Linked DNA regions of Homo sapiens. The gene in region 4 interacts genetically with the main gene of each other region. Each region holds a gene or a part of one and is shown on either strand. Other genes may lie near its edges.

What was found.
Region 1: changes in PRKAR1A (region 4) and SPHK2 together harm fitness less than expected from each alone (positive genetic interaction), as found in Homo sapiens cells (one large-scale study listed by BioGRID).
Region 2: changes in PRKAR1A (region 4) and MAP3K5 together harm fitness less than expected from each alone (positive genetic interaction), as found in Homo sapiens cells (one large-scale study listed by BioGRID).
Region 3: changes in PRKAR1A (region 4) and AGPAT1 together harm fitness less than expected from each alone (positive genetic interaction), as found in Homo sapiens cells (one large-scale study listed by BioGRID).

What each region holds. Positions count from the first base shown.
Region 1 is NC_000019.10:48,620,698-48,626,062, forward strand, and holds part of SPHK2 (sphingosine kinase 2), read left to right. Parts: intron 1-4,331; exon of another isoform or gene 4,332-4,379; intron 4,380-5,193; coding exon 5,194-5,365. UniProt on the Homo sapiens protein: Catalyzes the phosphorylation of sphingosine to form sphingosine-1-phosphate (SPP), a lipid mediator with both intra- and extracellular functions. Also acts on D-erythro-dihydrosphingosine, D-erythro-sphingosine and L-threo-dihydrosphingosine.
Region 2 is NC_000006.12:136,690,489-136,695,853, forward strand, and holds part of MAP3K5 (mitogen-activated protein kinase kinase kinase 5), read right to left. Parts: intron 3,823-5,365; coding exon 3,652-3,822; intron 1-3,651. UniProt on the Homo sapiens protein: Serine/threonine kinase which acts as an essential component of the MAP kinase signal transduction pathway. Plays an important role in the cascades of cellular responses evoked by changes in the environment.
Region 3 is NC_000006.12:32,171,420-32,177,454, reverse strand, and holds the start of AGPAT1 (1-acyl-sn-glycerol-3-phosphate acyltransferase alpha isoform 1 precursor), read left to right. Parts: upstream 1-1,370; 5' UTR 1,371-1,641; intron 1,642-4,338; exon of another isoform or gene 4,339-4,517; intron 4,518-5,949; coding exon of another isoform or gene 5,950-5,958; coding exon 5,959-6,035. UniProt on the Homo sapiens protein: Converts 1-acyl-sn-glycerol-3-phosphate (lysophosphatidic acid or LPA) into 1,2-diacyl-sn-glycerol-3-phosphate (phosphatidic acid or PA) by incorporating an acyl moiety at the sn-2 position of the glycerol backbone.
Region 4 is NC_000017.11:68,520,565-68,525,929, reverse strand, and holds part of PRKAR1A (cAMP-dependent protein kinase type I-alpha regulatory subunit), read right to left. Parts: intron 3,175-5,365; coding exon 3,004-3,174; intron 2,206-3,003; coding exon 2,114-2,205; intron 1,915-2,113; coding exon 1,853-1,914; intron 1,019-1,852; coding exon 972-1,018; intron 177-971; coding exon 18-176; intron 1-17. UniProt on the Homo sapiens protein: Regulatory subunit of the cAMP-dependent protein kinases involved in cAMP signaling in cells.

The DNA.
Region 1 (5,365 bases), on a different chromosome or scaffold from region 4:
CGGATCACCTGAGGCCAGGAGTTCGAGATCAGCCTGGCCAACATGGTGAAACCCCATCTCTACTAAAAATACAAAAATTAGCCAGGCATGGTGATGCGCACCTGTAATCCCAGCTACTCGGGAGACTGAGGCAGGAGAATCATTTGAACCCGGGAGGCAGAGGTTGCAGTGAGCCGAGATCGCGCTGCACTCCAGCCTGGGTGACAGAGTGAGACTCCGTCTCAAAAAAAAAAAAGAAAAAACAGGGTCTCACTCTTGCCCAGGCTGGAAAGCAGTGGCACAATCACAGCCTACTGCAGCTGCAACCTCCTGGGCTAAAGTGATCTTCCCACCTCAGCTTCCCAAGTAGCCTCCACCATGGCTGGCTAATTTTTTTATTTTTATTTATTTATTTATTTTGAGGTGGAGTTTCGCTCTTGTTGCCCAGGCTGGAGTGCAATGGCACGATCTTGGCTCACTGCAACCTCCGCCTCCCGGGTTCAAGCAGTTCTCCTGCCTCAACCTCCCAAGTAGCTGGGATTACAGGCATGCGCCACCACACCCAGCTACTTTTGTATTTTTCATAGAGATGAGGTTTCTCCATGTTGGTCAGGCTGGTCTCAAACTCCCGACCTCAGGTGATACGCCGGCCTCGGCCTCCCAAAGTGCTGGGATTACAGGCATGAGCCACTGCACCCGGCCAATTTTTTTATTTTTTCTAGAGACTAGGTCTCCCTCTGTTGCCCAGGCTGGTCTTGAACTCCTGAGCTCAAGGGATTCTCCCACCTCAGTCTCTCAAAGTGTTGAGCTTACAGGCATGAGCCACCGCGCCCAGCCTGGGAGCCCTTCCATAAGTGATTTCAGACCTTCTCTCCAGGCAGGTGTTCCAGTGGGATAATTTAGGAATCAGAGAAACTGAGGGGTTGAGGAGGATACTTATTATTTATTATTTAGGTGCACTGGCCCAGTCAGATTAACATCGAAAAAGACTGAGCACCGAACAAAGAGTCAAGTTACATTTTAAGTATTTCGTGGGGTAGGGGGAGATCTGTGCAGGGGGAAGCATATTATAGCAGCGAGAAACAAAGACAGTTATTCAATTGAGACATGCATTACATTATTTCTTACTTTTCAAGGAAAAACATGTTTTAGGACTTGAGTTTATCCTGTCTAGTGACCTTGCAGCTGCACAGTTAGAGAAACAGGGTCTTCACGATGCCTGGGAAAGGGAGTTAGATAAGGCTCACTAGCCACAAACAGAAAAACAGGCAGTTAATTTTTAAAGGACTCAATCTCGGGCCGGGCGCAGTGGCTCACGCCTGTAATCCCAGCACTTTGGGAGGCCGAGATGGGCGGATCACGAGGTCAGGAGATCGAGACCATCCTGGCTAACACGGTGAAACCCCGTCTCTACTAAAAATACAAAAAAAATTAGCCGGGCATGGTGGCGCGCGCCTGTAGTCCCAGCTACACACGGGAGGCTGAGGCAGGAGAATGGCGTGAACCCGGGAGGCGGAGCTTGCAGTGAGTCGAGATCGCGCCACTGCACTCCAGCCTGGGCGACAGAGCGAAACTCCGTCTCAAAAAAAAAAAAAATAAAAAAAAATAAAGGACTCAATCTCTTTCTCTTCCTCAGGGGGAATTGGGTTTTTTACATACAACTGAGTTTTTGCTTACACATTCTTTAATTTCTTTTAATTCCTGTTTCAGTGTGAATAGCTTTCTCCCTACTTCCCAGACAGGACAGCTGAGGCCAAGAATTCAGGGGCTTCCCAGCAGTCACACAGCAAGTGTGTGTGAGCTGCAGGGTCCTTTCTCCTTTTCCTCCTCCCTGTCCTCTCGTCTGTGTGACTTAGGCTCTATGTTTGAATCTCAGCTTCTTTGCCCAGTGTCTCTGCCTTTCCTTCTCCCAGGGCCCCAAGCTCAGTTGCTGTGCCCCAGTCTCAGTCTTACTGGGTTTCTGTTCCCCCTTCTCTCCGTGTCATTCCTTGGCACATACTATCTGGTGCTGTTGCTACTGTGGGTTGGATGCTAGGTACATGATTTGGCAATAAGCAAACTTCTTCCTACATTTGTCTCTCTTTTTTTTTTTTTTTTTTTTTTTTTTGAGACAGAGTCTTGGTCTGTTGCCCAGGCTGGAGTGCAGTGGCATCATCTCGGCTCACTGTAACCTCCGCCTCTTGGGTTCAAGCGATCTCCTGCCTCAGCCTCCTGAGTAGCTGGGATTACAGGTGCGTGCTACCACACCTGGCTAATTTTTGTATTTTTAGTAGAGATGGGGGTTTTGGACCAGTGAGGTGGCTCACGCCTGTAATCCCAGCACTTTGGGAGGCTGAGGCGGATGGATCACGAGGTCAGGAGATCCAGACTATCCTGGCTAACACGGTGAAACCCTGTCTCTACTAAAAATGTAAAAAATTAGCCGGACGTGGTGGCACGTGCCTCTAGTCCCAGCTACTCAGGAGGCTGAGGCAGGAGAATCGCTTGAACCAGGCAGGCGGTTCAGTGAGCCTAGATCGTGCCGCTGCACTCCAGCCTGGGTGACAGAGCCAGACTCCATCTCAAAAAAAAAAAAAAAAAAAGAGAGAGAGACGGGGGTTTCTCCATGTTGGTCAGGCTGGTCTCGGACTCCTGACCTGGCGATCCACCCGCCTCGGCCTCCCAGAGTGCTGGGATTACAGGCGTAAGCCACCACGCCTGGCCTACAGCCTACATTTGTCACTTTCTAGTGAGCTCTGTCCTTGTCTCCTAATGCATATCTCTTTCTCTCTATGCAATTCTGTTTCTAAGTCTCCTAATATATACTTGCCTTTCTTTCAATTTCACCATGTCTTTGCCTCGGTGCATCTGTCAACATCTTCACTTTCTGTCCCAGTTCCTCCCAGCCCCTGGGCTTCCAATATTCTCTCCCTCCCTCACCTTTGACCTAGAGATACTGTCCCCATCTCTCTGTCTCTGTCTTGCCATGTGACTGGTTCATTCACTGGGCAGATGTTTATCTCATGCCGCTTCCATTCTGGTTTGAGCCTGAGATAAATAAGTCTGAATTAATGAGCCTCTCCTTCGCGGCTTCCATTCCAGAAGTGTCTGTCTCCATCTGTCTCCGTGTCTGTCATTTTCAGGGTTTTCTTGTATCCTTACCTTGCACATTCTCAATCCCACTGTTTTGGTCTCTTGTTTATATCTCTGCTTTTCTCTGGGTCTCTCTGACTCTGTAACTGTCCGAAAAAAAAGTATCCTTCACTTTCCCCACTCTCCCTCTCCTCCCAGCTCTCTTATTGCCTCATCCAACCTCTGTGGGTCTCTGCCTTGCTCTGTGTCTGGATCGGATCTCTGGGCCTTTGTTACGCGTGTTAGAGTCTCTGTCTTTGCAGCTAAAGACCTCCTCCCTCACGCCCCTTTTCTTTTGTGAATTCAATGGATGAGACAGGCCCACTCTCCCTTAACAAAGATGGCGACAACGGCGCTGTCTATGGGGCCGCGACGTCGTCTCCGCTGCGCGTCGGCCCTCACCCACGATGGCGGCCAGTCTCCCGAAGCGCGAGGCCCCGCCCAGCTCTCGGCCTCTCCCGCGGCCGGTCCCTGCACCAAGCTCGCGAGCTGACTGGCTCCACCCCCCGCGCCCTCGTATTGGTGCGGCCCAGGCCGGCTGCACGGCCATTGGCTGAGCGGATGCACACCCTCCCCCCACCCCTAGGTCTGATGGGGGCTGTTGGTGCTGACTTGCGGGACCGCCTGGAGGAGGACCCGGCGTGTGAGGAGGGTGCGGGGGTCGGGGCAGGGACCGGAGTCTAGGGGACTGAGGGACCAAGAGGAACAGAGACTCAGGCCCGGGACTGGGGCACCGGGGTGGGAGATGGAAATGGAAAACCTGGGCCAGGACTGAACCCAGCCAGGCCTGGGACTGGGTTCTGGAAATAAGAGTGCGGATGGCGGTTTGGGGGCCCAGGGCCAGACACGCAGGCCTATGGATTGGGGACCAATGGATGGAGACCCAGGTCCAGGTCTCGGGGACCCAGGGACAGAGACCCAGGCCCAAGACTGGAGGACATCTAGGGCTCTGTGCTTGAACCTGATTTGAGGTTCCCATAATGGGGCCAGGGCAGGTTTGGGGGTGAAGCAGACGTCCTGGACCCGAGAGAGCCGCTGGGGATAGGGGGGCAGATGTAGTTCCTAAGGGTGAGTCCACAGGCGGTGGGGGGTGGGGGGCTGTCCTGGCGCTCTGGGCCTGGGGAATGTGAGGGGCAGGACTGGCAGGTGGCTGGGCGGGGCAGTGGGGAACAAAGGTGAGCGAAAGGAGGAGGCAGAATCCGGGCAGAGGGCAGGGAGAGGGCCTGTGGGGAAGGGACCTCAGTCCTGCTCCCACCCGCTCCCTGGAGAGCAGGCGGCCAGACACCCAGGTCAGTGCTCAGGGACCAGCTCTTGGCCCCTGCCCCTTGCAGGCGCTCGCATGTGGCTCCTCTCGGACCCCGTAGTCCCTGTCATATCCCTTCTCTCCAGCTGTCTCCATGCCTGCCTCGTACCCCTCCTATTTGCTCTCCCTTCCACTCTGTCTTGCCTTTCTCGTTGGGGTGAAAAAGTCTTACTCTCTTAAGTATCTTTCATCGCCTGAGTTTCACCTCATTGACCCTGTTTGTCTCCTCTCAGTGTTTCTCTGGCTCTCAGACCCTATCTCTATTGCGTTTGTGATTGTTTTGCTGTTTTACCCACTGCACCGTATGGGGGGTGGGGGTGTCGGGGAGGTGTGTCTTTCAGTCTTTGCATGTCTGTTTCTGCATATCCAATCCCACTATCCATTCCCCTTCCTGTGCCTTCTTTTCCCCCAAAGCCCGTTATCATCACCCAACCACCTGTATATTTCAATCCTTTCTCTTGTTTATCTATTCCTATGAAGGCAAGGATTTGGGGCTATTTTGTCTCCTGCTGTGTTTGCTAGGCCTAGCACCGTGATTGGCACATAAAGGGTACTGAATACTTACTGGGGAATAAATGATTGGATGTTTGCATGCCCGGGTCTCCGGCCCCCTCTGGGATGCTGGCCTCTGTCCCGCATCCTCAAGGTCTGCCCACACCTGTCTGAGCCTGTCTGTCTCTGATGCTCCTGTCTCACCTGCCACTGCCCCTCATTGTCTCCTCCTGTCCACAGCCCCTGCCCCTCCCTGCCCCTGCCATGGGGTCCTGAATTCTCACCCCTTCTCTCCTCCCTTCCCACAGAGGCCAGACCAGGAGCTGACCGGGAGCTGGGGCCACGGGCCTAGGAGCACCCTGGTCAGGGCTAAGGCCATGGCCCCGCCCCCACCGCCACTGGCTGCCAGCACCCCGCTCCTCCATGGCGAGTTTGGCTCCTACCCAGCCCGAGGCCCACGCTTTGCCCTCACCCTTACAT
Region 2 (5,365 bases), on a different chromosome or scaffold from region 4:
TCTCTAACATCCTGGCTAACAATTGATATTGTCAGATTTATAAATTTTGGTTAATCTGAATAGTGTAAAGTAGTATAAAAATAATCTTTTTATAAGTTTCAAAAATATGTTTATTGGCCATTTGTGATTCCATTTTTGTGAATAACCTGTTCATATCCTATGCATTTTTTAATCTCTTTTTCTTAAAGATATTTTGAGGAGTTATTTATATATACTGAATACATATCCTATATTGGTTACATGCATTGTTCCCTGTGATTTCTTTGTTGATGGTATCTTTTATATTTATTCATATATTTATCATTTCCAGTGCTATATGCTTTTTCCTATAGATCCATTTGGTTTTATTTCCCTTCAGCCTAAAGACTTTAACATTTCTTGTAGTGAAGTTCTGCTGGCAACAAATTATCTCAGTTTTGATGTATCTAGAATTGTCTTTACTTCACCCCCATATTTTAAAGACATTATCAGTGGATATAGAGTTCTTGCTTGATTGGGTTTTTTTCTTTCAGCACTTTAATGTTATTCCATTATCTTTTGGCTTCCTTCAGCACTCACTCTTTCCCCTGATGTATCTTCTTTCTTAGGCTGCATTTATGACCTTTTCTTGTATTTCTGTTTTTCACCAATTTTACTATGATGTGCCAAGAGATAATTTTCTTTGATATTTATGCTCCTTGGGTTTTGCTGAGCTTCCTAGATCTGTGAGCTGTTTTTTATTTGTTTGTTTGTTTGAACAGATTTGGATAATATTTGACCACTAATTCTTCAACTATTATCCCTGCAACAGTATATCTCTCCTCTCCTGGGACTCTAATTAAAAGTATCTGGACCACTCAAGGCTGGGCACGGTGGCTCACACCTGTAATCCCAGCACTTCAGGAGGCCGAGGCAGGTGGATCACTTGAGGTCAGGAGTTTGACACCAGCCTGGACAACATGGGGAAACCCGGACTCAACTAAAAATACAAAAAGTAGCTGGGCATGGTGGGGCATGCCTGTAATCCCAGCTACTTGGGAGGTTGAGGCACGAGAATCGCTTGAACCCCGGAGGCAGAGGTTGCAGTGAGGTGAGATTGCACCACTGAACTCCAGCCTGGGCAACAGAGCAAGATTCGTCTCAAAAAAAAAAAAAAAAGTATTTAGACCACTAAATGCCACAGGTCATTGGAATTATTAATGACTTCATCTCTTTCTTTCCTCTGCTTCAATTTCAATGATTTCTAATAATCTGTTTTGAAGTTTATTGCTCTTTTATCGTATTGTGTCCTATCTGCTGTTAATCTGATTTGATGACATTTCAACTTCAGATATTGTACTTTTCAGTTCTAGAACTCCCATTTGGTTATTTCCAGTTTCCAAATATCTCCTATAATTCCTCATATTTTCACCCATTATGTTCATCTTTTCAAGTAGATTCTTTGATATAATTATCATTGTTATTTTTATGTCCTTGTCTGGTAATTCTAAACTCTGTTTTATCTATGGGTTTATTTCTATGAATAATTTTTTTCTTAATTATGAATCACACTTTCCTATTTCTTCACCACTTTAGTAGTTGAGAGTTTTTCTTTCTTTTTTTTCTTTTTTTCTTTTTTTTAATAAGACAAGGTATTTTTATATTGTCCAGGCAGGTCTTGAACTCCTAGGCTCAAGCCATCTTCGCACCTCAGCCTCCTGAGTAGCTGGAACAATGGGAACATGCCACCACACCCAGGTTGCTTAGTAATTTTTATGGTGTATTAGACATTTTGGATGATAAGCTGTAGAGAGTTTGGATTTGTTCTCCTCCTCTTAAGAGTATGTAGTTTTTTAATAAAAGGTAAATAAATTATTGGTGGTTCACCTTGTTCACACAAAGGCTTATCCCACTCAATGTCCAGGTCCTCCGGCAGCCTCAAACTCACTCTCAGGCCAATAAGACTGTGATTTCCTGCTAGAGTTCTATCTGTCCTGCTCCCTGCAGACCAGGGAATGTCTTGAGGGAAAAGCCATTTAAATGTGGAGTTTATCCTATGCGGTGCCCTTCATCCAAGGATGAAAACCTTTCCAGTTTCTAGCTACTTTTAATCACTCTTCAGTGCTTTCCAACTTTTTTCCAACATTTATAATTGTTATCAACAGGAAGATAAGCACAATAGAATCTACTCTGCTGTTTCCAAAAGCTACTACTTTGATGAGCAGAAGCCAATTTTCATGTAGACCATTTTCCCAGTCTTATCTTTTATGGTATATGGCGTTTTTAAGCCTTGTTTAAGAAATCTTTGCCCCAGTCAGGGCAACATGGTGAAACCCTCTCTCTACCAAAAATACAAACAATTAGCCAGGCGTGGTGGCACACACCTGTGGTCCCAGCTACTCAGGAGGCTGAGGTGGGAAGATCACTTGAGCTCAGGAGGTGGAGGTGGCAGTGGGCCGAGATTGCACCACTACACTACAGCCTGAGTGACGGAGCAAGACCTTGTCTCAAAAAAAAAAGAAAGAAATCTTTGCTTATCCAATAGTCATACATAATTTGTACACTTTATTCTAAAAATATTTTTCTAAAGTATTTTTTCATATTTTGGTATTTAACTCACTTAGATTTCATTTTTTTGTGCATGGCTTAAAATGGGGATAGAACTTTATTTTATTTTTCCAAGCAGATAAAGAAATTTTCCCAGTATCATTACTACAGATTCCATCCTTTCCTTTACAGCTCATGAAGCTGATTCTGCCATAAATCTAGACTCATGTATATCTTAGTCTGTTCCAGGCTGTCTCTTGTATTCCAGTGCTTTGTTTGTCTATGCCTATAGCCATACTGCAATATCTTAATCATTACAGCTTTATAATGAGTCTTGTTAACTGGTGGAGCAAGTCCTTCCACCTTGTGCTTTTCCAGAATTGCTTTGCCTATTCTCAGTCCTTTATTCTTTCAAATAAATTTTGGAATTGGTTTGTCAAATCACATGAAAACCCCTGCTGGGGGGAATTAAAATCTTTAAAATATCAAGCCTTCTCATCTACAAACTCGGTATATTTTTTCCTTTCATTCAGGTCTTTTAAACTGTCTTTATATAAATTTTTCTACAAAATTATATTTTATTATTTATATTACTTATTTAAAATATCTTTTTAAAATTATATTTCTTAAATTATCTTTTCATCTATTTATCCCAATTTACTATACTATGTTAAATGAATTTCATCAAATTATTTACTAAAGTTATAAACTCTAAGATTGGCCCGGTGGCTCACGCCTGTAATCCCAGCACTTGAGGAGGCAGAGGCAGTTGGATCACCTGAGGTCAGGAATTCAAGACCAGCCTGGCCAACAGGGCAAAACCCGTCTCTCCTAAAAATGTAAAAATTAGTGGGCGTGGTGGCGGGCACCTGTAATCCCAGTTACTGGAGAGGCTGAGGCAGGAGAATCGCTTGAACCTGGGAGGCAGAGGTTGCAGTGAGCTAAGATCACATGACTGCACTCCAGCCTGGGCAACAGAACAAGACTCCATCTCAAAAATAAAATAAAATAAAATAAAATCTAAGGTTTAGTTCATAATACACAATCTTATGGATTATAATAATACTTTAACACTCTCATTTGCAAATACTTTTTTATGCCATGGATTTACTAAGTAAGTAGCTCATTTATATACTATTTACTTACCAAGAAGCTCCATGGTCTCTGCTTTCAGTGTCCGTGAAATTAGAGTCCAAAAACATATCTTTGTAGATTCGACCAACTAGGCAATACATATCTGAAGCAACTTGTCCTTCGCTTTGCACCATGGGAATCATAATATCAAGAGCTTTTGCTCTGTCACCAGGGAGATTTCTCCTAAGGCAGAAAACATTGTTGTTTCAATATACATTACAGAAGCAATATAGATCAATTCTTTTTTAAAAACCCTATTTAACATGTTGATTCATATTAGAGAAATTTGCCAGGACAGAAACAATTAGATTTTGAGAGTCCTCTGTAAACCTCTGTCCTAAGCCTAATTTTTTGTTTTATCCCATTGTATGTCTACTAGGTCTAACAAGGATTTCTTTTGAGTTTCTGTGTTAATAATGGTGATGGATTTGTACTTACTCATCCACAATCCTTCCAATTTCCCTGCAGCCTATATGCAGGTTCAAGTTGGTGAAACGAGATTAGAGTTGTAGTCTGTGTCTTTGAATAGGGTAGAGTAAATAAAGCCAAGTAGGGACAAAACCCTGACCTTAGGTTTCAATGGCTTTTGCTCCAAAACTTAGCAAACTCATTCACAGATGATACCAAAAATCAAATCAAACCCAAGAACTGCTTGATTTCTACGTGTGACTAACTGATTATCTAAGGAAGTTGCTTTATGTAGCATGCTTTAAAATAGTATGTGTAGACAGTTCACAAAACCAGATAAAAATTCTATAAGAGTTATCATTCCTTAGACCTTGAAAATATTATGCTAAGTGAAAGAGGTCAGTCACAAGGGACCACATACTGTATGATTCCATTTATATGAAATGTCCAGAATAGGCAAATCTGTAAAGACTGAAAGTAGATTCGTGGTTGCCTAGAGTTGGGGGATTTGGGAGGGAAATGGAAGGGGGGCTGCTAATGGGTACAGGGTTTCCTTGTGGAGTGATGAAAATGTTTTAAAATTTATTGTTTTGATGAAATATATTTAGTTTGTTTGTTTGGAGACAGAGTCTTGCTCTGTTGCCCAGGCTGGAGGGCAGTGGCATGATCTTGGCTCACTGCAACTTCTGCCTCCCAGGTTCAAGCGATTCTCCTGCCTCAGCCTCCCGAGTAGCCGGAACTACAGGTGCACACTGCCACACCTGGCTAATTTTTTTGTATTTTAGTAGAGACGGGGTTTCACCGTGTTGCCCAGGCTGCTCTCGAACTCCTGAGCTCAGGCAATCCGACCACCTTGGCCTCTCAAAGTGCTAGGATTGCAGGAGTGAGCCACCACGCCCAGCCTGTGAAATATGTTTCAATAAAGCTATTATAAAAAAGGTATCATTTCTATTCTCAATTACTACTTCAAATCTTCTGTCCAAGAAATTCCTTTTTATCCTTGGTAATAACTATCTAACACTATGTTCACCTAGACATAACCATCCTTACTCTAGTGAAAACTTTTGTGTGAATGACCATCTGGTGTTGAGTGTATTTGCTTAAAGATAACATCATATTCATGTAACTTTTACAATTCTAAAAAATATGAATAGCAAATACAAACTTTGACAGAGCAGAAAACCTGTAAGAATTTAAATATACCAACAGTGTGCGACTTTTTTTTTACTGAAAAATAAATCAGAAAAAAATGAGAATGCATGCTTCCTATATTTCATGGGGCTGAAGCAGATATGCTAATATTACATTTTAATAGGGA
Region 3 (6,035 bases), on a different chromosome or scaffold from region 4:
AAACCTTCAGAGCAGGAAAGCTCTGGGCTCAACCCCTTTGTGAGTGGTGCAAAAGGGACAAAGCCCGCCCCTTTTAAGGAGACCCGCGGAGGCTAGACCCGCCCTTTCCTCTTTATAATTTGCCCATCAGAAATAGGGTCTTCTTCCCAGGTTGGACCCCGGGGAGTTTGGGCTTTTCCTACAATCACTGACCCTCACTGTGACTAAAGGAGCAGAATTAGGTAACAGTCCTCCCACTACCAATCCTCTTCCCGAGGGCATGTAAACTAATGCAGGGTAAAGGTGTGGCTAGAGGGGGGACCTTGATAAAAGATCCCATGTGACTCAAGAGTAAGGAAAGATGAGAAGTTAGCAGTTGCGTAAAGAAGGACTGGGGCAGATGAGGATTCAGGAAGCTTGAGGTTTAGGAAGGAAGATATTGAGAGGGAAAGGTGGAAATGAAGGAGAGTGAAGTGATGGAATGATCCTAGTAAAGGGATAATGGGAGTGGAGGAAGAGAAGAGGGGGTGGAAAACTAGATACATGGCTACCAAATTAAGGAGGCACGCGCATTCCAGAGGAATCGGCATTCTTCCTCACTTTTTATTTTTCTAGAAAGCACCCCTGAAGCCAAATTTCCATTGGAAGAAAAGATGTACCCATATTGTATGTTGTGAGAAGGGGTTGTCTCAGCTTGGGCAAGTAAGGAGACTGATACGAAGGAAGTAGGAAAGAAAAGGTACAGAGGTAAAAGAGCATGGAAAAGGAAAGGGTCAGGGATAAGGCCAAAGAGATCTCTTCTCTTTAAAGGCCAGAGAAGGCAGGTGGAGGGGGGAGCTGGACTGCTGGGAGATAGTGAGGGACAAAGGGCAAAGGAAACCAGACCAGAGGACTGGAGAGTGAGATGGAGTGAGATGGAGTCCTGGAGAGAAAAAGAAGAGAGGTGAACTTAATGCTTGTCATATGGTAGGTAGATGCTTGATAAATGTTTAGAATTGAATGGGTACGGGAAAAGGGGTCCTTAAGAATAGTTGGGGGGAATAAGCAGCAGATAACCGGAGTTGAGAAAAAAAGAGACCAAGTAAAAGTGGCAGTTAAAAGAGAGCTGATGGAGAATAAAGGAAGGAATGTGCGGAAGGAGGAATACAGCACCAGGGGATCCAGAGCTGAAAGGGAGTTAGAGAAAAAAAAGATGCAGCTGGAGCCAGAGATGGGGGCAAAGACCGAGGGAGAGCCCTGGGGCGGGGCTCGCAAGAGGACACTGGTAGATGTGGGGAGGAGATGCCAGAGTTTCTGGGAGACGATTGGCAAAACAGGCTGCCCATCACCGCCCTCCACTTCCTGGCCGGCCCCGGAAACCAGCAGGCGTTGGGGAGGGGTGGCGGGGGAATAGCGGCGGCAGCAGCCCCAGCCCTCAGAGAGACAGCAGAAAGGGAGGGAGGGAGGGTGCTGGGGGGACAGCCCCCCACCATTCCTACCGCTATGGGCCCAACCTCCCACTCCCACCTCCCCTCCATCGGCCGGGGCTAGGACACCCCCAAATCCCGTCGCCCCCTTGGCACCGACACCCCGACAGAGACAGAGACACAGCCATCCGCCACCACCGCTGCCGCAGCCTGGCTGGGGAGGGGGCCAGCCCCCCAGGCCCCCTACCCCTCTGAGGTGTGGGCGGGAAAGGGATGGGAGGAGGAGGGAAGAGGGTGCTGAAAGCGACTAGGATGAGGGGAAGGGGAGAGATTGGGTCTGGGAGGGCCGACTGGGGGAGAGGGTTGCTGGGGAAAGGAGAGGGGCCGACTGGGAAGAGGGTTGCTGGGGATAGGAGAGGGGACCTGAGAGGGAGGAAGGATGGAAGAGACCTGGGAGGGAGGAGAAATGGAAACCCTTGTGAATTTGGGACTGGGAGCGTGCACAGGGAATCCTGGAGAGGGAATTCCCTACACCTTCCCCAATTCCTTTTCTTGCCCTTTGACCCCACATGACTCTTGAAGGGTCATGAGGGGAGAAGGCCAGCAGAATTTGCCTCTTAGGAATACCCTTAGGTGCCTCTGTTTCCATCTAGGCACAGGACCTCTTGTTTCTCAGTGGCCTTCCACACTGCTAGACCCTTACTGACACACAAATGCCTTATGGGAGCCATGTTTTCTACATTGAGTCTGTGTGCCTTTGACATGTTTAATGGCTTGTGTGCAACTAGGTTGTCCCAATGCTATCCATAGGCTGTGTAGAAATGGTGTGTTATTTTCTATCAGAATTGCCCATTCTTCATTCTTGTGTCCATGTCTCACATCCAGTTTTGACATGTTTTAAGTACCGCATGTGTGTGAGTTTTCATATATTGCACCTGTTCTATAATTTCATGTTACTTGCACATTTTATGTTTTGGCATGTTTATTTCAGCATGTGAAGGTTATATACCTTATTTTGCTTTGGCTGACATGTCCATGGTCCTACCATTTGCAGTAGTCTTCATGTGTGGGATCCCATGGCTTGGCTGAATACCCCACACTCTGATGTCTGACTGAATTGGCCTGTTTGCTGTGTTTTCCCAGTCACAGTTCACAGAACACATGTGTATGCGCCTTTGCATGATACACTGATGTAACAGGACCATAGAATGTGTGTTATAAATTTGTCATCAGTATATTTTGTGAGCCGTATGCTCATTAAATTTGGCCCTCCATTGCATTTCTAAATCCTTGGACTTTTGTTCTCCAAAGAGGGTCACTTAATATCAAGTGTTAAGAGAAGAAGGTAACTGGGTCTCCAGGTCTGCAAAGAACCATCCCTGCATGCCTTACCTTGGTGACCTCCCTGGCCCATACCTCTCTACACAAACATTATCTTTCCAGTGGCTGTGTACAGTCTGTGTCCATGAGCTCAATGCATGTCACAGGGTCAATCCTGCTGTGAACCCCATTGTTGGTATTTATTTATGGACATTATCCTCCATTCTTTGCACTGTTGGCACACATTTGATGAGAGCAGCATCTTTCCCTGTGGCATCTTGATCCCATTCGGTACATTTCTCTTGTGAGATGACCTCTTCCTGATTATTGTTACTCTGCCTTCATTATGGCTATGTATTGCATGTATCTATTCAGAGTCGGTTACCATTAGGCTTGGTGTGTTCGTTACTTTCTCAGTGACTTCTTTTAGTAGTCACTTCTACTCAAGAGGATAACTATCTAATTTGTGATCAGAACCGCCATCTCTGTCATTAACTGTGGCTCTATGGGTGGGTATACAGCCTTAGAATCTGTTCAGCAAGTGTTTATTGAGCACCTACTCCATCTCCTATTGTCCTGGCACTGGAGATAAGACAGAGTCCCTGTCCTTAAGCTGCTTACAGCCTAAGGAGGGAAACAAAAACGCCAGTCAACACATAGTGTGTTGTCAAGATCAGTGGTTCTTAAATTCAGGCGCACATCAGACTCACCAGAGGGCTTGTTGAAATACAGATTGCTAGCCAGCCACGATGGCTCACACCTGTAATCCCAACAGTTTGGAAGGCTGAGGCAGGAGGATCGCGTGAGTCCAGGAGTTCAAAACCAGCCTGAGTGACAGAGTGAGAAAAAGAAAAACAGATTGCTGGACCTAATGCCCAGAATTTCTGATTCAGTAGATCTGGGGTGAAGTCTAATAATTTGCATTTCTATACTTCGAGACCCGCTGATCAAGATAAAAGTGTAAGGAAAGCACAGGCCTGGAGGGGTTCAGGCAGCCCTCCAAAAGGTGACACTGAGCTGTGTGAGGCAGGAGAAGAGACAGGCATTCCAGCCAAAGGGAACAGCATGTTCAAGGTGGGGAAGCATGAAAGATCATGGTGTCTGAGGAACTGAAGTGAATCAGTTTGACTGGAACAAAGAGTTTTGTGAGGATGTGGTCGAAGATGTAAGCAGAAGTCAACTTATCAAGAAGAGCCTTTAGGCAAGACAGGGAAATGCTCTGTGTTTCAGAAAAATCTGTGCTAACAGAAAAATCTCTGTGGTTGCTACGTGGAAGATGGATTGGAGGGAGTTGGGAGCCTACTCCACATAGTTCAGGGGAGAAATGATGCTGTTCTGAACTTGTAGGGGCAGTGGGATGGAGCAGCTCAGAAAGCCTACGGTATTCCAACTGGCAGGGTCTCCTGTTTCCTCTATTGCCTGTTACCTTCTCGCTTGGCAATAGGCTTACCTTTGAGCATAGCCCTTCCCATCATGGGAAGACAGTGCCTGTGGCCTCAGTAGGAATGACAGGTATTTGCCTGAACACCCTTTTTGTGAATTGTTACCCTGCCCCCAACACTGGGGCAGAGTGGAGGAAGGAGGAAGAACCTAGAACACAGGTTCTGTGTTCCTGCCTCTCTTCCTCTTGAGCCCTTTCCTCTCCCAGGGCAAGTGCTGTTAGGTCACCTTTACTCCATTCCCTCCTTTTTTCACTTGGTGAGGCCTCACACACTGTACCTGCCCACGCAAAGTGTCACTAGAAGGAAGGGAAAGGGTAGTAGGATTCGTTTGCCTGTCTGGAGGTAGGATTGGTCTTTGTAGCTATTCCAGGTATGTCCATAAGTTTACCTAGGAATAGGGGAGCTGCCTGGGTGGAGAGGGATTTTTCTAGTTATGCATTTACATTCTTTTATCTGTCACTGGGTGTAATTATAAATTTGTGTCTATGTGTGAACATGTTAGTCTTTGTATGACTGTGTGTCTGTTGGCATTAGTGACACGAACTTTTAATCTTGCCATTTGGCCCTTGGGTATATGGCTGTGAGTGTTCTGTCACAATCACCATATATGCTGTGTGCTGTGTTCGTATATATATATGCAATACATACCAGTGTCAGCGTAATGGAGTGGTTAGGAACACAGGCGGCTTAGATTTAACCTAGAAACTGCTGTTTAGGAGCTGTATGACCTCAGGTAAGTTATTTAGCCTCCCTGGGCCTATTTCCTATAAAATGTAAATAGTAATAGTACTTTCTAGACTATCATATGCATCATTTTAAGAGTTTAACTTAATGTATAGACCAGTACTGTTCTACAGAAATATAATGCAAGCCACAATGTAATTTTTTTATGGTAGCCACATTTTTACAAGGCAAAAAGAGTGAAATTAATTTTAGTAATATATTTTCTTGAATCTGATAACATCCAAAAGATTATAATTTCTTTTTTTTTTTTTGGAAATGGAGTCTCACTCCATTGCCCAGGCTAGAGTGCAGTGGCGTGATCTTGGCTCACTGCAACCTCCGCCTCCCGGATTCAAGCGATTCTCCTGCCTCAGCCTCCCGAGTAGCTGGGATTAAAGGCATGCGCCAACAGGCCCGGCTAATTTTTGTATTTTTAGTAGAGACGGGGTTTCACCATGTTGGTCAGGCTGGTCCTGAACTCCTGACCTCGTGATCTGCCCACCTCGGCTTCCCAAAGTGCTGGGATTACAGGCGTGAGCCACTGCGCCCGGCCCAAGATTATAATTTCAAAATGTAGTCAGCATAAAAGATTAGTAATGGATATCTCACATTTTGTTTTTTATTCAGTCTTTGAAATCTGATGTGTATTTTACATTTCCAGCACATCTCAGTTCAGACTAGCTGCATTTCAAGTAGCCACATGTAGGTGGTGGCTACTTTCTCGGACAGCACAAGTATAGACCATTATAAGACCCTTACCAGCTACAAGTGTTAGCTATTATTCTTGTTGTCATTTATTATCAGGTATCTGTGAATTGTAGATGTCTGTGTCTTGTGTCTCTTGTCTGAATATATCCGGAGCCTTTGGGAAGAGTGGTGGGAGAGCAGTCCTGAGCTCTTTCTCCACCACCCTCATCCTAGAGAGCCTTCCTGGGAAGGTTTCAATGAGACCCCTGCCCCAGTTTGTGTCTCAGGCCCTTGTCCTCATAGCACCAGCCCCCAGCCCTGCCTTCTGTGCCTTGCCTACCCCACTCTCCTCCAGAAACCAGGCTGATTGTCCCTTGCCCCATCCCCTGCAGGTGGCCAGAATGGATTTGTGGCCAGGGGCATGGATGCTGCTGCTGCTGCTCTTCCTGCTGCTGCTCTTCCTGCTGCCCACCCTGTG
Region 4 (5,365 bases):
ACACCATGGTCTCTTACCATGAGGATTCTTCTATAGCTGTCTCGGTCGATGCCCCACAATTTCACATTTGTCTTTGCTTTGACAGTGGCTGCTCTCGGTGTTCCATAAATCAAAGCAAGTTCTCCAAAGCTCCCTCCTTCCCCAACACTGGTTGCCCATTCATTGTTAACATAGACCTAAAGTGCAAGTGACATCAAAAAAGTTTATTTTCTAGATACAAACACTTAAATGTTAAAAACCCTCAAACCTTTTTAAAAGGTCACAATCCTGAACTTTGTTTTAAAAAACAGAATATATTATGTTTGCAGTACACAACAGAGAAGAATAGGTGATTTCTGACGAGTTAAATGAGTTAAGAGTGTCTATAATTTACCTGATTTAATTATCTGATAAGAAAAAAGCACTCTGTAAGGATGTAAGGGAAAAAGGTCAGCTAAGCACTAATACCAGTCACAGATACTTAGAGAACCGTGCTGAGCACTATGCTAAACATTTTACTTGCATTAGGTCACTGAATCTTCTAATAATCCTAAAAGATCAATGCTATTATTGTCCCCATTTCATTTGTGAATAAGAAAGGTATATTAATTTTGCTAGCTAATGGCTGGGTCTAGAATCTTTTTTTTTTTTTTTTTTTAAGAGATGAGGTTTCACTTTGTTGCCCAGGCTGGTCTTGAACTCCTGGGCTCAAGCAACCCTCTTGCCTCCATCTCCCAAAGTGCTGGGATTATAGGCATCGGCCACTGCACCCAGCTACACACACTTCTTCACCACCACTCCAGCAAAGTTCTGAACAGAAAATTACCTTTAAAGAGTTTCTCTGTGTCATAAAAATACTTGGCAAAAGGTATTAATAAAATCTGACATACAAGGGATGTAATGACCCTTCAAAATCACTATTCTTATTGCTCGGAAGCGATCAATACATTGGCTTTTAAGATCAACATATTTTTGATATTGGTAAATCTTACATCCGTCTCTCCTTGATCAATCACATAGAAGTTATCCCCTTCATCACCTAAAAGAGGGTAAAAAAGTTAGAAGCATATTCCAAATTAAAGAAAGAAATTATCAAAATTATTACAAAACAATAAACTTATTTTACAGTGGTACTGTGAGAGTGTGTTACAAACTAACACAATCTTTCAGGGGAAAGAAAATCAAGCAACATATTTTAAAAGTCATAGAATTAATCAAAATTTTTTTAGTCATCTCATGGTGAAGAATACCTCTGAAAAAAATTTTTAAAAGCTACATATGTGTAGTTATTAACTGCTATGGCATTTATAACAAGGACATTAGAAACAACTCAAATAGTTAATAACAAATTATCAGGCTGCCACAAAATGAAAATATATACCCACTCATAAAATGTCAAGAATAAATAAGAAAATAAAAAGAGGAAGATAGTCAAAAAGTTAGATCCATGTTAGTCTATATAGGCAAAGTAAGAATCTATAGAAGTCCTAGAACCTTTTTAATAGACAGGGCTATACAATGAAGAATGTAGGTGTTTCATTTATTTCTTACTTTAAAAGTGATTAACAATATAAAGAACATGAGAGATATATATGATTCTGCAATTCTATATGACATTCAAGGTAAGACAATGTAGGCATTTCCTTTAAATTATAAACAAAACTGTATCAAAAATATTAGTTCCCAATACAAAGTGTTCTGTCCATCTCAGAAAATCTTAATTTAAAAGAAATAGAAAAATCCAATAGTATAACAGAAAAAAAAAAGTGGTAGGATCAAAGAGGAAAACAAACTTCAATAAAACAAAACCAAAAAAATCCTCTAGTCTCGCCTCCTCTCCCGTAACAATATTGCATGCTCCAGAGGCCCTTACCTTGCTGAATCACAGTCTCTCCTGCGATAAAGGAGACCGAAAACATGGCATCAAAAATATCACTGCAAAAGAGAGAAGGCCTCGTGTTACATTTCACATGTCTCTTCCGTGAATTTCAAACATTAAGCTTAGAATTAAAGACCCCAGACTGTCATCTGGTGAACAATTACTAAGAGCTCTAAAACTTGCAACAAGTGTTGAAAACAATTTGGGATCACACCCTTACTTGAAAAATAGTGTTAAGAAAGAGCCTGTTCCTACCTTCTCTCATTATCATCAAGATGTGAAAACAGCACATTCTTTTCAATGGCTTTGGCTAAAGCGGCCATTGTCTTGTAATCTTTTGGTATAACCTAGAAAAGAACTGAAGGTCAAATGACAATTCCATAAACCAAAAACATTTCACGTTTGCAACCTGCGCTTCAATTAAATGTCAAGCCACATTATGGTATTTAAACAAGACTGCTTTGTAGTGTTTCACTACAACACACTTGTACTATCTTTGATCCATAAACTACTCAACAAGTATTGACTAATTAATCCCCTTGCCTACAGCCAGGCCTAAATATAAAGTCTGGTACTTGGTTCCCAGTTAACAACTAAAGAAACAAATCAAAACACCTGGACCAAGGTCATTATTCTGAGGCAAAACTAAGTATTTTATAATAATTAGTCATTTTAAAAATCTGTGATCTGTTAGCTTCACAAGCCTCAAGTGCCAGGACAATTCTGTTCCCCTTTAAGGCTAACAGCATAACTCAAAATAGCCTGGCTCTGAGGAAGAGGAGAACACAGGACAAATGAGGCTCGTAGAATAAAAGGTTAAAAGCCACAACATTTAATAGGATAGCAAAAAAAGGACATCACGATTCAAGAGAAAAAGCAATACCGCCCACCTCCTTCTACTGCAAAACAACTGCAAGGAAATAACAAACCCCAAAATGCAATTATTCACTAGTTCATAATCACTATTAGTTATTTCCTCTGACAGCATGCTATTACAGAAACCTGTTTTCCAGTACCCAAGAATTGTACAGGATGGATGAAGTTCCACCCTGTTTTGTATTTTATGATTCATTCATCAAAGGAGACTAGATGACCACCAAGTGGGTCCCAAAAGCATCCCCCCGATATTCAAATATCAAAACTACCTTTCTAACATAGGATGCCGCATCTTCCTCCGTGTAGACCTCAGCGCTGATAGCACCTCGTCGCCTCCTACCTTTAACCACTGGGTTGGGTGGAGGAGGAGAAATCTCATCCTCCCTTGAGTCTGTACGAGTGCCTGCTTTCTGCAGATTCTGAATCTGTTTTGCCTCCTCCTGAAAGAAATTACGAGTTTGCAAAATGAGATCCTTCGGCATGTAAAGCTGGCACTCTCATGTTCCAATGATAGTCTATCTCAGTCACTTCCAATCTCTTCTTCCATTAACAATGTAAGTTAAGAGGAAAACACCAATTCCAAAGGGGAAAAAAAGAGAGTAACACTTGAAACACTCTCAACAGAATGTACCTCAGATGATAACAGATGCTATCCTTTATTAATGGGCAAAAGTCATTAGTACAAGCCATTAGTACTCACATAACATGTGAGTAACAAATCAGATATTCATTAATGTCTTGACAACAATTATCTGTGATGCACACAACAGTAACACACTGCAAGACAAAATCCTGAAAATTGGGTTTTTTTGGATGCTACTGCAGATAGCAAGAGACCCTCCTGCCAAAAGAAATGTTATCAGGAAAAACAATTCAAGCCCAACATAGTGATCCAAGAATGTCTAGATTACTGAGTTATTTCATTAACTCAATAAGCCATTTTCTGGATCTGCCAGGCCAAGACCTATGCTAGGCAACAGGAAATTAAAAACAAATAGGAGAGGGTCCTGAGCCTGTGGAATTCACATTCCAGTTTGATCCCAGATAAAAACAAATAATGAAATGATGTGATGGTAACCACGAATTTAAACGAGATCGTATCTATAATACTTCTCCCAGCAGAGCTAGGATCACTCTTTGTAATCAAGGTTTAAACTTGAAGTTAAAAGACAAAAAGAGTTTACTTGCTTTTAAAAACTACTTATTGGACCAATTCAAATAAAACCTAAGATAAACTATTAAACATTCCTTTTTTCACATCTAGAGCCTTAAAAACAAATTCCTCTCAGATCTAAAGAATTAGTTGTTGTGCCTGAAGTAAAAGGGAAAAAATAAAAATGTGTTATCTTCTACTTTCTCATTCATTTGACCCGTTATTTCTTTTCTATATATAAATTTGTAAGTGCCCATATATTAATCTCCAGAACATTGGCAGCATTCAAGAAAAGCAATGGCGTGGGAGGGAGACCTTTCATTATTATGCCCCTTTGTACCTGCACAACTTTGAAATATGTGAATATGTAACCTACTTTTTAAAATATGGTTTTTAGAAAACTCATTTCATGTTAATTCTGGTTGTTCCAATAACCAGTAAGGTTTTCTCATTTCATATTAACACAGGTATAAAACTCAAGTCTCTCCCAAGTTTAAAGTTTAAGAATACATGACTGGGTACAGTGGCTTACGCCTATAATCACAACCCTTTGGGAGGCCGAAGGTGGCAGATCACTTGAGTCCAGGAGTTCGAGACCCGCCTAGGCAACATTGTAAAACCTCATCTCTACAAAAACACATAAAAATTAGTTGGGCGTGGTGGCACACACCTGTAGTCCCAGCTACTTGGGAAGCTGAGGCAGGAGGATCACCTGAGCCTGGAAGGTAGAGACTGCAGTGAGCCATGATCGCACCACTGCACTCAGGCCTGGGCAACAGAGTGAGATCCTGTCTCAAAAAATAGGCCAGGCATGGTGGCTCACACCTGTAATCCCAACACTTCGGGAGGCCAAGGTGGGCAGACCACAAGGTCAGGAGTTCAAGACCAGACTGGCCATTATGGTGAAACCCCATCTCTACTAAAAATACAAAAATTAGCCAGGTGTGGTGGCAGGCACCTGTAGCCCCAGCTACTCAGGAGGCAGAGGCAGGAGAATCGCCTGAACCCAGGAGGCAGAGGTTGCAGTGAGCCGAGATTGCACCACTGCAGTCCAGCCTGGGTGACAGAGCAAGACTGTCTCAAAAAAATAATAATAAAAATAAAATAAAACACACACACAGTTTAAGAGTATAAATGAAAACACAAATTCTCCCACCCCCAAATTTGTCACTGACATTTCACAAAAATTTCAGGAAAAATTTCACAAATAACATTTCACTTGGGACTACATTCTACTTCACTGAATTTTTAAGATTAATTTTGAAGTAACAAAAGCATTCTGATTTTAGCAGTGTCTCATGGATTCTAGTGAGTCTTTTAAAAACAGCAATCTGAATATAACCTAATCTGACAACTCAGAGCCATTACTCAGATCATGAGTTTTCTAGTATATACTATGATATATTTTTATATCCTTTCTCTTGCTGTTGTCATCCTTCTGTCAGTCTCCTTCCTCCTCAGCTCTTTAAGTGAGGTGA